3 linked regions of the Homo sapiens genome follow. Changing the gene in region 3 together with the main gene of any one other region gives a genetic interaction. Each region holds a gene or a part of one and is shown on either strand. Other genes may lie near its edges. The genes, in order: SSTR5, CYP4F12 and MAPK12.

The links.
Region 1: changes in MAPK12 (region 3) and SSTR5 together harm fitness more than expected from each alone (negative genetic interaction), as found in Homo sapiens cells (one large-scale study listed by BioGRID).
Region 2: changes in MAPK12 (region 3) and CYP4F12 together harm fitness more than expected from each alone (negative genetic interaction), as found in Homo sapiens cells (one large-scale study listed by BioGRID).

The regions. Positions count from the first base shown.
Region 1 is NC_000016.10:1,071,129-1,074,877, forward strand, and holds the start of SSTR5 (somatostatin receptor type 5), read left to right. Parts: upstream 1-1,618; 5' UTR 1,619-1,694; intron 1,695-3,749.
Region 2 is NC_000019.10:15,689,972-15,693,620, reverse strand, and holds part of CYP4F12 (cytochrome P450 4F12), read right to left. Parts: intron 1-3,649. UniProt on the Homo sapiens protein: A cytochrome P450 monooxygenase involved in the metabolism of endogenous polyunsaturated fatty acids (PUFAs).
Region 3 is NC_000022.11:50,255,419-50,258,708, forward strand, and holds part of MAPK12 (mitogen-activated protein kinase 12), read right to left. Parts: intron 2,884-3,290; coding exon 2,825-2,883; intron 1,776-2,824; coding exon 1,664-1,775; intron 1,547-1,663; coding exon 1,517-1,546; intron 1,229-1,516; coding exon 1,181-1,228; intron 782-1,180; coding exon 667-781; intron 464-666; coding exon 392-463; intron 277-391; coding exon 197-276; intron 114-196; coding exon 35-113; intron 1-34. UniProt on the Homo sapiens protein: Serine/threonine kinase which acts as an essential component of the MAP kinase signal transduction pathway.

The sequences.
Region 1 (3,749 bases), on a different chromosome or scaffold from region 3:
GGTGGGGGGTGTCCCAGCTTGATGTTGGGGATGTGAGTAGATCCAGCGCCCACCCACCCGCAGGGCTGAGCTCCCACTGGGCGCTGGGCCGTGACTCGCACACCGGACCCTGCACCCCTGGGGCACCCAGTGATTCCAGAACAGTGGGACCCCAGAGGCTTCTCAGGGAGCCCCAGAACATGACAGATGGGGGCCCAGGTGCGAGGCAGTGGGAGCTGGAGGAACACAGCCAGGGGCTGAGGCGAGAACCATGAGGATGGTGGGCAGAGGCTGAGGGGAGGGGCAGCAGATGGAGATGGGGGAGGCGTTAGGGGTCACAAAGGGGGTTCTCAGAGGATCTGCCTTGGGAAGCCACTGCTGTGGGAGGGTGGGAGGGATACAGCCCAGGTACCTCCAGAGAGGATGGAAAGGCTTATGGGGCGGATTCTGGGCAGGGGACCTGGGACCAGCCTGCAGCCTCCCCTGAGGGCCTGGCCATGGCCGCAGGCTGGGGAGGAGGGGAGGGGACCTTGGGGCCAGGTGCCATGGTCCTCTAAGCACTCTTGCTCGATGGTAAACATAACACGCGCTGCTTGCAGAACATGTGGAAACACTGAAACGCTTAAAGGAGAGAACATGGTCCCGGTACCCGGCCTTCAAGGGAGCTGCTGGCGCCTGTTCAACAGGAGCCGACCCCACCTGTGAACAGACGGCAGGCGGCTGCTCCCATGTCCCCTCAGAGAGGGGCCCTCCGAGTTCTGCTGTCACCTGGGGGCGCCTCACTTCATTCAGCCAGTGGCGGGGCTCCCTGGGTCGGCACAGAGTCAGGGGAGGGGGCTGGGGGACCTCCTGGTGGGAAAATGTCCGGTGATCCCCAGCCTCCGCGCTCAGCGGGAGGAGGCGCTCGGTCCCGCTTCTTACAACCAGCGGCGCTCACGGCGGGCCCGGGGATCAGCATCCCGGGAGCTTCTCAGGAATGCAGATTCCCAGGCCCTCACTGCCTGGGGAGTCGGGGGCCCAGCTCGAGGCCCAGGAATCTGCTTTGAGGACCCAGGTGACTCTGCTGCCTGCCTGAGAACCCCACCTTAGGTGAGGGACTAAGGTGTACCCATGGATTCATTTCAGGGGAAATAAAAAGAACAACTTAGCAGGTAGTCTATGCTTAAATATGTGTAGGATCCACAAATAAGGCATGGATAAAACCCGAGTGGAGTGTCCTGGAAATCCCACGACCACGGACCCCCCTCGCTGGGGCTGCCTGCCGCCCCCACCAGCCTCCACACACCCACTTATCTCCACAACCCCAGCCCACCCCTCAGAGACGTCTGCAGAGCCCCTGACCCTCTCCCCTTGAACAAGGACCCTCCACCCTCTTCAGACTCTCGACGAGGGACCCCCTGGACTCCTGCTGGCGGCAGGACCCCCACCCCAAGCTGGGGTCTACCACAGAGCGGACAGCAAGAAAATAGGGTGGGGGCGCAGGCGATCATGGGGTCACTGCCAGTGGGACCAGGGCTGTGGGCGAGTGCGCCAGGGTTCCCGGAGGCCAGACGTGGGACCCGGGAGTCGAGCAGGTGAAGCGGCCCTGCCCCGCCCCCACCAGGCACTGCCCCGCCCCCGCCCCGCCCCGCCCCCTCCCAGCCGGCGCCCGGGAGCCCGGAGCCAGTGCCGCGCGGACATCGGGGCTCCCCCGTTCAGAGGGCGCCGCCGCCCAGGTGAGTGCCGCCCGCCCCTGTCCCCCTCCCGCGCGGGCACCCCCTGCCCTCGGCTGTTATCCCCACTGGGGGTTTCACCCTGTGTGCGCAGCCCCGGCCCGGGGTCCCGCCGTGCGCCCCCAGCCCGCTGCACGCACTGTCCCCCACGCGCCCTCCGCACACCCGCGGGGCTCTCCTGCCGCCGCCGGGGGTCCCTCCCCTCCCGTTCCATCCACTCCCAGCAGCTCCATCCCTCCCATCTCCTGCCCCCACCCCACAACTCACCATCTGCAGGCACCCCGTGTGCCAGGGTCAGCCCAGAAGCCACAGGGGACCCAGATGGCCCCACTCTGCCCACCGCGCCGCTCCCGGCCTCTCCTCCCCACGACGGGGGCCACAGCGGGGCTGGCTCCTGGAGCTGGAGGAGGGTGGGTAAGGCTGGGGAGGGCTCGGAGCCTGGGGCTGGGGGCCGGAAGTGGCACTCAGGCCACAGGGAACCACTGGGCCACGGAAGGAGGGTCCCAGGGTGCCCGTGGCACCCAGCGAGGGGAGGATCCGCAATTTGGGTGCCGGGGGAGGCAACTGGTGCCTGCGCGCAGCTGGGTCGGTGAGCTCCTGGAAGGCAGCAGGCAGAGGCCAGCACCCAGGGGCCCTGTGACCTGGCACTCACAGATGGGTTCCCTGAAACCCAAGACTGGGGAGGCTGGGGTGCCACCCCGCCCGCTGCGAACAGAGCCCCCTCCTGTCCAAGGCACCGCGTGTACCTGGAATCCTCCTGGCGTCTTCACCCTCTCCAGAATAGAGAACACGCCACTGGGGTGTGTGCCCTTGGCCCTCCTCCCCCACCCCAGACCCACCCACGTGCCCGACCCGCTGTCCCCAGCCTGCCAGCCTGCCTGGGGCCCCCTCAAGGGCAAGAGAGCGGAGTGCATGGTGACAGAAGTTGGGGATGGTTCCAGTGAGGCTGAGCCCTTTCTGAAGGCAGTGATTCTGGACTATGTAGGTGGGGACTGCCAGAGCCTCCTGGGCAGAAACTGGTCAACAGCACCAAGGACAGGCGCCTGGCGTTGATTTCCAGAGCAAGACCCAGCGAGGCTGTCAGGAGGTGCCTGGTGTGGAGGGTGCCCCGAGAAGCGTTCGCGGAGCACGCGGGACCCCTGCTGCTGCTGCTCCAGGCTGGCCCACACCTGCCTCAGTTTCCCTCTCCTGGGGAGGGTATGTGCCCCTGGCCACAGGCTGCCGCAGGGACAGGTGGCGTGTATGTGGGGGACAGGCAGGGGTGCCATTGGCTGCACTCACAGAGCTGGACCCCAAGGGGGCAGTGGCCTGCCACCAGGCCACCCTTACGACAGAGGAAACAGGTCAGAACGCTTGTCCTGGGAGCACAGGCCTGGCTCCGGGGCCTTTGGAGGGGCTGGGGCCTGTAGTCTTAGCTAGGGTGTCCCCCGACGTTTGCCCCTGCCCAGCACACAATGGAGGAGCCCGGGTGGGTCTGCAGCCTCTCCAGGGTGCGGCGTGGGCCCCGGCCGTGTGAGCCGCTGCCTCCCCGAGCAGCAGGTTCCGCAGCCCCTCCAAGCTGCAGCCGCATCGCTGCCCCCCATGAAGGAGCCGACTCCCCGACCTCGTGCTGGGTTAGCCTGGAAGGAGTTGGCAGGGTGCAGGCTAGACCTCCACCCAGTCATGGAGGACTTGGTGCTGAGGCCCCGCCTCTGGTCCCAGGCCCCTGTGAAGACTGCCCCCTTCTCCGAGGAGCCCAGCGGCCTCCTGGATGCTGGGGAAATGCTGGGCTGCTTAGGGCAGCTTGTGGGAGCAATCGTTGAGCGCCCAGTGTATGCCAGCCCCGCTGTGGTCCCCGTCGTGGGGAGGTGAGGCCGGGAGCGGTGCTGTGGGCAGACTGGGGCCATCTGGGTCCCCTGTGGCTTCTGGGCTGACCCTGGCACACCGGGCACCTGCAGATGGTGAGTTGTGGGGTGGGGGCAGGAGATGGGAGGGATGGATGCTGCTGGGAGTGGATGCACGCAGCACCCTGCACACAGAAGCTCACTCAGTTTCATCAGCTCAGCAACCCTACAGTTT
Region 2 (3,649 bases), on a different chromosome or scaffold from region 3:
AAATTTTCGCAACCTACTCATCTGACAGAGGGCTAATATCCAGAATCTACAATGAAGTCAAACAAATTTACAAGAAAAAAACAACTCCATCAAAAAGTGGGCGAAGGACATGAACAGACACTTCTCAAAAGAAGACATTTATGCAGCCAAAAAAACACGAGAGTCAGGCAATTTGAAATGTGGTAGTAAATGTATCATTTTGGCAGATAGTGATTTTATACTTAGAAAACACTAGAGGCCCCACTGGAAAACGTTTATAAACATTTAAGATCAAGCAAAGGAGCTGAATTCTCTGCTTAATCTTTCTTCTTTTGCAGTGGCTATTTAAAATTTTCATACCGTCTACAATTATCTGGTTCAGAATTTGAAAACTATAAAACATAATTCACTCCTATGGCCCAATGCCATTTACTTCTCCCCACACGTTGCCAGGTTATTATTTTTTTTAATGTATGCTTTCTGGGCTGATTTTAAGCATCTTAAAAAATTATATAGGAGCACACCATCTACTGTAGACACTATTCTGTATCTTTTTTGATGGGGGGAGGGAATGGAGTCTCTGTTGCTCAGGCTGGAGTGCAGTGACACAATCTTGTCTCACTGCAACCTCCACCTCCCTGGTTCAAGTGATTCTACTGCCTCAGCCTCCCAAGTAGCTGGGACTACAGGCATTCACCACAACAGCCAGCTAATTTTTTTTTTTATTTTTAGTAGAGATGGAGTTTCCCCAATTTGGCAAGGCTGGTCTTGAACTCCTGATCTCAAGTGATCTGCCCACCTTGGCCTCACAAAGTACTGGGATTACAGTCATGAACCACCGTGGCTGGCGTGTATCTTTTCTCTCATTTAACAGTTTATCACTTTTTCATAGCCCCTGGGACTTACGTCAAAATAAGGTTATCCCTACTCTGGCGCTATGAAATAATTTTCTCATGGTTCCTTCTAGAGCTTTTAGGACTCTTTTAGAAAAAAATGATTAATCTGAACATTATCTTGTCATAAGATATGAGAACAAGGTTCAGTTGCCTTTTTTCCAGAAGGCTTTCCAGTTGCCCCAAGAGCTTTTACTTAATTATCTATATTTTTTCTCTTGATACAGATACCATCTTTAGCATATACTATGTTCACTGGGCATAGAATTTATATGCATAAATCATTAGTTTTACCATATAGAAATAACCATCAAATGAAAAGATAATAAAAGAAAAGATACTAGTCATAATAATATAAAATACCTGGATTAAACTTAAAAAGAAACATGAAATCTCTGTATTTCATTATAAATTTCCCTCAATCCAAATAAAACATACACTTTATCACACAATAAATGTTTGCAGGGGTTGATTTAACAACAAAAAAAGCCACTCTGCCAGATATTAAAACCCATTAGAAAGTCAGAGTATTGGGAGGCCGAGGTGGGTGGATCACTTGAGGTCAAGAGTTTGAGACCAGCCTGACCAATGTGGTGAAACCTCATCTCTACCTAAAACAAGAATTAGCCAGGCGTGGTGGAGGGTGCCTGTAGTCCCAGTTACTCGGGAGGCTGAGGCAGGAGAATAGCTTGAACCAGAGAGGCAGGAGGTTTCAGTAAGCTGAGATCGCACCACTGCACTCCAGCCTGGGCGACAAAGCTAGACTCCATCTCAAAAAAAGAAAAAAGAAAAGAAAAGTCACAGTAAGAAAAAATAGTCTGGCAATGCCATAAAAACGGATGCATTCAAAAGACTAAAAAGGTCAGAGACGGGCATGTGAATAAGTGGAAACTTCCCATCTGCCAAAGGAAGCCCCACAAAACTCTGGGAAATAGCTGGGTAGTGTGGTACAAAAGAAAATACGAACAAATGTAACTTCATAAAAATTAACCAAAAGCACCCCCCAAAAAAGTCAAAAGGCAATCTTTTGCAACAAAAAAACAGAAAAAAAAAACATTAATTGTGATACACATTCTTATAAGTAAATAAGAAAAAAGAACCCAAAGAAAAACAGCAGAAAATATCAGATGACCACTCCCATAGAAAGAAAATAAATGGCTTATCAACTTGGGCAAAGGATGTTCTTTCTCACTCTTATTTAAGAAAATGCTCATTAAAAGATGAAATATGAAGATGGACAAAAAATTTAAATTTAATAATACAATAATACTATTGGCAAATTTGTGGGAAAGCTAGTGCCATCAAACTCACCTAATATAGAGATGGATTTGCAATCATTATTACAACTGTAGAATGCAAATGGTCTTTGGTTCAACAATTGCACTTTTGGGAATTTGTCCTGCAGTGATGTTTATACATATGAGCAATGCTCACTGTACACACATGCCGATTGCACAAGTTTAATTTAGCAAAAGGATGAAACAAGCCAAATATACATGGATGGGGAGATGTTTAGATAAACATCCACACAATGGAATAGTATACAGCTACACAAAAGGAGAAAAAAAGGATCACTAGTCCTGTCACACAATGCAGACCAGAAGCTAAATCAGTACAGAGACTCTGGAATGCAAATTGGCCATACCTCCAATGATTGGAAATGTTTACGCAAGTGTCTTCAACAAAGGGATGGGCCAAATAAAACATGGAATGCTATTCAGCACTCAGAAAAAATATCTGTCAGACACAGTATTGAGTGGAAAAAAACATGTTCCCAAATGTCCATATATGTAAATACCATAGGACAAAAAATATAAGGAATATAAGAAGAGATCGATGATAGAAAGATATGTAGATAGATGTAAACAGACAGACAGATAGATGACAAATAAGTATCTCTACAGGCCCCCTTGGAGAAAGGGAGGATATTAGGTGGGATAGCAGGAATGTCAAGAATAACCCTTGTCTATCTGTGATGCCTCATTGAGTGCAAGAAGAAACTGTTCTCATCATTGCTTTTGTAATTCAAAACTCATTTTCCGTGTGGTGTATATATACAAAATGGAATGCTAGTCAGCCTTAAAACAGAAGAAAATTCTTTCATTTGTGGCAATCTGCAAGAACCTAAAGGACATTATGCTAAGTGAAATGAGCCAGGCACAAAGAGACAAACAGCACATAACCTTAATTAACTGTGAGATCTGAAATAATTAACACAGAAATCATAGAAACCAAGAAGAGAATGGTGGTTACCAGAGAAGGGAGGAAGAAAGAATGGAAAGACATTGGTCAAAGGGTACAAGTTTCCGTTAGAAGGAATAAGTTTTGAGATCTATTGCATGCATGGTGACTACAGTTAATAATAATAAATTTCTCAAAATTGCTAAGAGAGCAAATTTCAAATATTCTCACCACAAAAATGATGAGTATATGAGATGACGGGTATGTTTATTAAATTGACTTAATCATTCCACGTTGTATACATATATCATAATATCACATTGCACCCCATAAACATATATAATTAAAATTTGCCAATTAAAAATAAAAACGAACTAATTTTCCAAAACTCATATTTTTAGAAAAAGAAAAGCTCCCAAAGATATATTGTTAATGTGCAGATCTGTCTCTTCTTTACTTCCTTTTATTTCAATAGCATTTGGGATATAAGTGGTTTGGTTACATGGATGATTTCTATAGTGGTGAATTCTGAGGTTTTAGTGCACCCATCACCCATGCAGTGTATACTGTCCCCAATATGCAGTCTTTTCTCCCTT
Region 3 (3,290 bases):
AGCACCCGGTGGCCCCCACACTAGCCAGCCGTACCCAGAGGGCTTGCATTGGTCAGGATAGAGGCAAAATCCTTCTTCTCCAATTCGGGGAGGCCCTTCATGTAGTTCTTGGCCTGTGTGGGAAGAAAGGGTGAGGGGCCAACACCAAGGCCCAGGTCCGCCCCCACCCCCACCCAGCTCCCCACTCACCCCTTACCTCATCGCTCTGCAGCCGCTGCACAAACTCAGCCGGAGGCGTCCCCGTCACCTTCATGATCTCCTTCAGCTGGTCCAGGTCTGCACCGAGGTCAGGAACACAGCTCGGGGGCCAGAGATCAGGGCCCCCACTGCCCCCACCTGGGCAGGAGCCATCCCCACCCGCCCCTGGTGCCGCCCTGCGGCTGGAGGATACGGTCGCTGCCCTTGAACAGCGTCTTGCCTGTGATCATCTCCGCCATGATGCAGCCCACAGACCAGATGTCCACTGAGATAGAAGCCCTGGTCAGCTCCGTGGGCAGGGGGACAGGATGAGACGGGGAGGGAGGAGACACCAACACAGCCCACCTGCCCGGCTCCCACCCCAGCTCAACAGCCTCCCTGGGAGCAGCCACCACAGGGCTGTCCGTGAAGAAGTGGAGAAGCAGATGGTGCAGCCTGAGAGGCCCAGATCTCTGGGCAGCTTCTCACCCGTCTGCGTGTAGCGCATCCAATTCAAGATGACCTCGGGAGCCCGGTACCACCGGGTCACCACGTACCCAGTCATCTCACTGTCTGCCTGCCTGGCCAGGCCGAAGTCCAGGATCTGTGGGAAGAATTGGGGAGGTGGGTTCTAGGGGACTCCCAAGGAGCGGACAGGCCACCCACGGTCCAGGAGACCCCGGGGGGTTGGACTTGAAGCTCCCAAGCTGGGGCCTCCTGACAACCTTCAAGGACTTGAGGCCACGCCCTCGGACCCCAAACTGCCCCGAGCTCCTCCCTCTGGCCAGTGCACCAAGCCCAGCAGCCCTCGGGACGGAGCAGGTGCCCTGGGTACGGCATGTTGTGTACCACTGCCTCTTGGGCTCACCCACCCACCAGCTCCTCAGCCACTGCCCAGAGCCTGGGACCTTGGCCCCCTGCCCAGGCCTGACAGGTGGATAGATGGGCAGATCCAGAGGGGGCCCCTGCCCCACCTCAGGGCCCCCTGCCAGGCAGCACACACCTTCAGCTCACAGTCTTCGTTCACAGCCAGGTTGCCGGGCTTCAGGTCCTGGGGGCAGAGGAAAGGTGGCCACTGTGCCCCACCCTCCCAAGCATGGGCACAGCCAAGAGCCTGGGTGGCACCTAAAGATGGGGCCACCGGACCTGGCCCCCTTGCTCTCTGCAGCCCTTCAAGGGCAGACCAAGGTACCTGGGCACCCAGGCAGGTTCCCACCAGGGGCTGTGCATAGGGCGTGGCTCAGCACCCAGACCCCATCACATCCTCACAGGTGGGACGTGGAGGCGGGGGGATTGCACTGGGGGAGGGCTGATGAGCGGCTTCTCCACCGGGACTCACTCTGTGGATGATGCCGGCAGCGTGGATATACTGCGGGGGGCAGAGGATTTGGCAGGCTTCAGCGCACCCTCTCAGAGCCACAGGGCCCTCCTCTGCCCAGCCCCGAGGCCCTGCCTGCCTCCCTGCAGCCTCCCCCGGGGCCCGTACCCTCAGCCCCTTCAGCATCTGGTACACGAGGAACTGGATCCGGTCCTCGCCTAGCTTCTCATGTTTCATGAGCTTGCCCAGGTCGGTGCCCATGAACGGCATCACCAGGTAACTGTGGGAGGGGCCGGAGCGCTGTCAGCGGACAGAGCCAGCCTCTGCATCCCAGAGACCCACCCAGCAGGCCCAGGCTCAGACCCGTCCCGGATCCAACAGGCACCCCCAGGAAGGTCACCCCTGCAGCACACATCCACACTGGCCTCGGTGTCCTCGCAGCCCCACCTTGCAGTGCCAGGCTCCATCCTCCCGCAACTGTTACTGCCAGCAGCGCTCACACCCCCCTCCCACCCTGAGGACTGTCAGGCAGGGAGGAGGCTGCCTTGGGGTTTTTGAACCCTCCGCTGAAGCGCCCTGCGTGCCAGGCTAGGGGCTGAGGCTCCATGGTAGAGGCAGCAGGACTCGAGTCTTCACAGGCAGGGGAGGGAGGCAGTCAGGTTTCAACTTCACAACTTTGTGCCAGAAATGAGGGAGGTGCCTGGGGGCGATGGGGGCGCGGCAAGGCATCTGGGTCAGAGGGGTCGGCTGGGCCGGTGGAGACAGACACAGGAGAATGGTATTTAGCACCTTCCCAGAGGCCACTGACTTGACCTCTGCAAGTCAGGCGGGAGGCGCCTGCTACCCTCTCCAGGCCTTCCTCGGCCTGGCCCTTCACTCTTGGCCGACAGGGTGTGAGTCCCAGGGTGGTCGGCTGCAGGGCAGGGGCAGGGTGGGTCCTCCCTACCGCTTCTCCCCCACCCGCTGGAAAAGGTCAGCAGCTCCAGTTACCGGCCACACACTTGGTGCCAGGGTCCCGAGCACGGGACCTTCCTGTTAACAAATGGTCAGGTCCAAGGTTCACACCTCCGGTGCTGGAGAGGGCCCAGGTGCCAGGCGTGGAGAGAGGCAGCAGCCCCAGCTCTGCCCAGCTGTGCCAGTGCCCGTGGGTCCCAGGACCATGTGGGGGAGGGCGTGGGGTGGACAGTGGTATGGGGAGGGGGTGGGCGGTGTGCATCCCCCACTCAGGCTGCAGGAAGAGAACCCCATTGCCAACCTAGAACCTGAAGCCAGTGCCCAGAGCTGCCCAACACCCCTCGTGCCCAGCGGCCAGCCCAGGTCGGCACTCACAAGTCCGTGAAGTCATCCAGGGTCTCATCAGGAGTGAATACGTCCAGCAGCCCGATCACCTGGGGGGGCCACATAGGGTTGAGAATGCAGCAGAGGACACGGGCTGGGGCACCCCCCAAGAGTGGCACAACCCTCTGGGCAGGAAACCCCCTCTGCAGCTGTCATTGTCATGCCCCACTGTCCAAAGGGCCTGGCTCTGCCCACTGGCAGTGTGGCCCAGCCCTGGCACACATACCCACTGGCAGTGTGGCCCAGCCCTGGCACACATACCCACAGAAAGGTTATTTTTGGACGGTGACAACCGGGATCTTCTGGGGGAGGGGCAACCCGGAGTCTGGGATGGCTCCGAACCATCCAAAGGGCTCCTGCCGCCTGACCCTTTCACCCCTCTTCACCCCAACCAAACAGATCCAGGCCCAGGGTGGGGACAGCGCTATGGAAAGAGGCCAGGCCTCTGCTGGTGAGG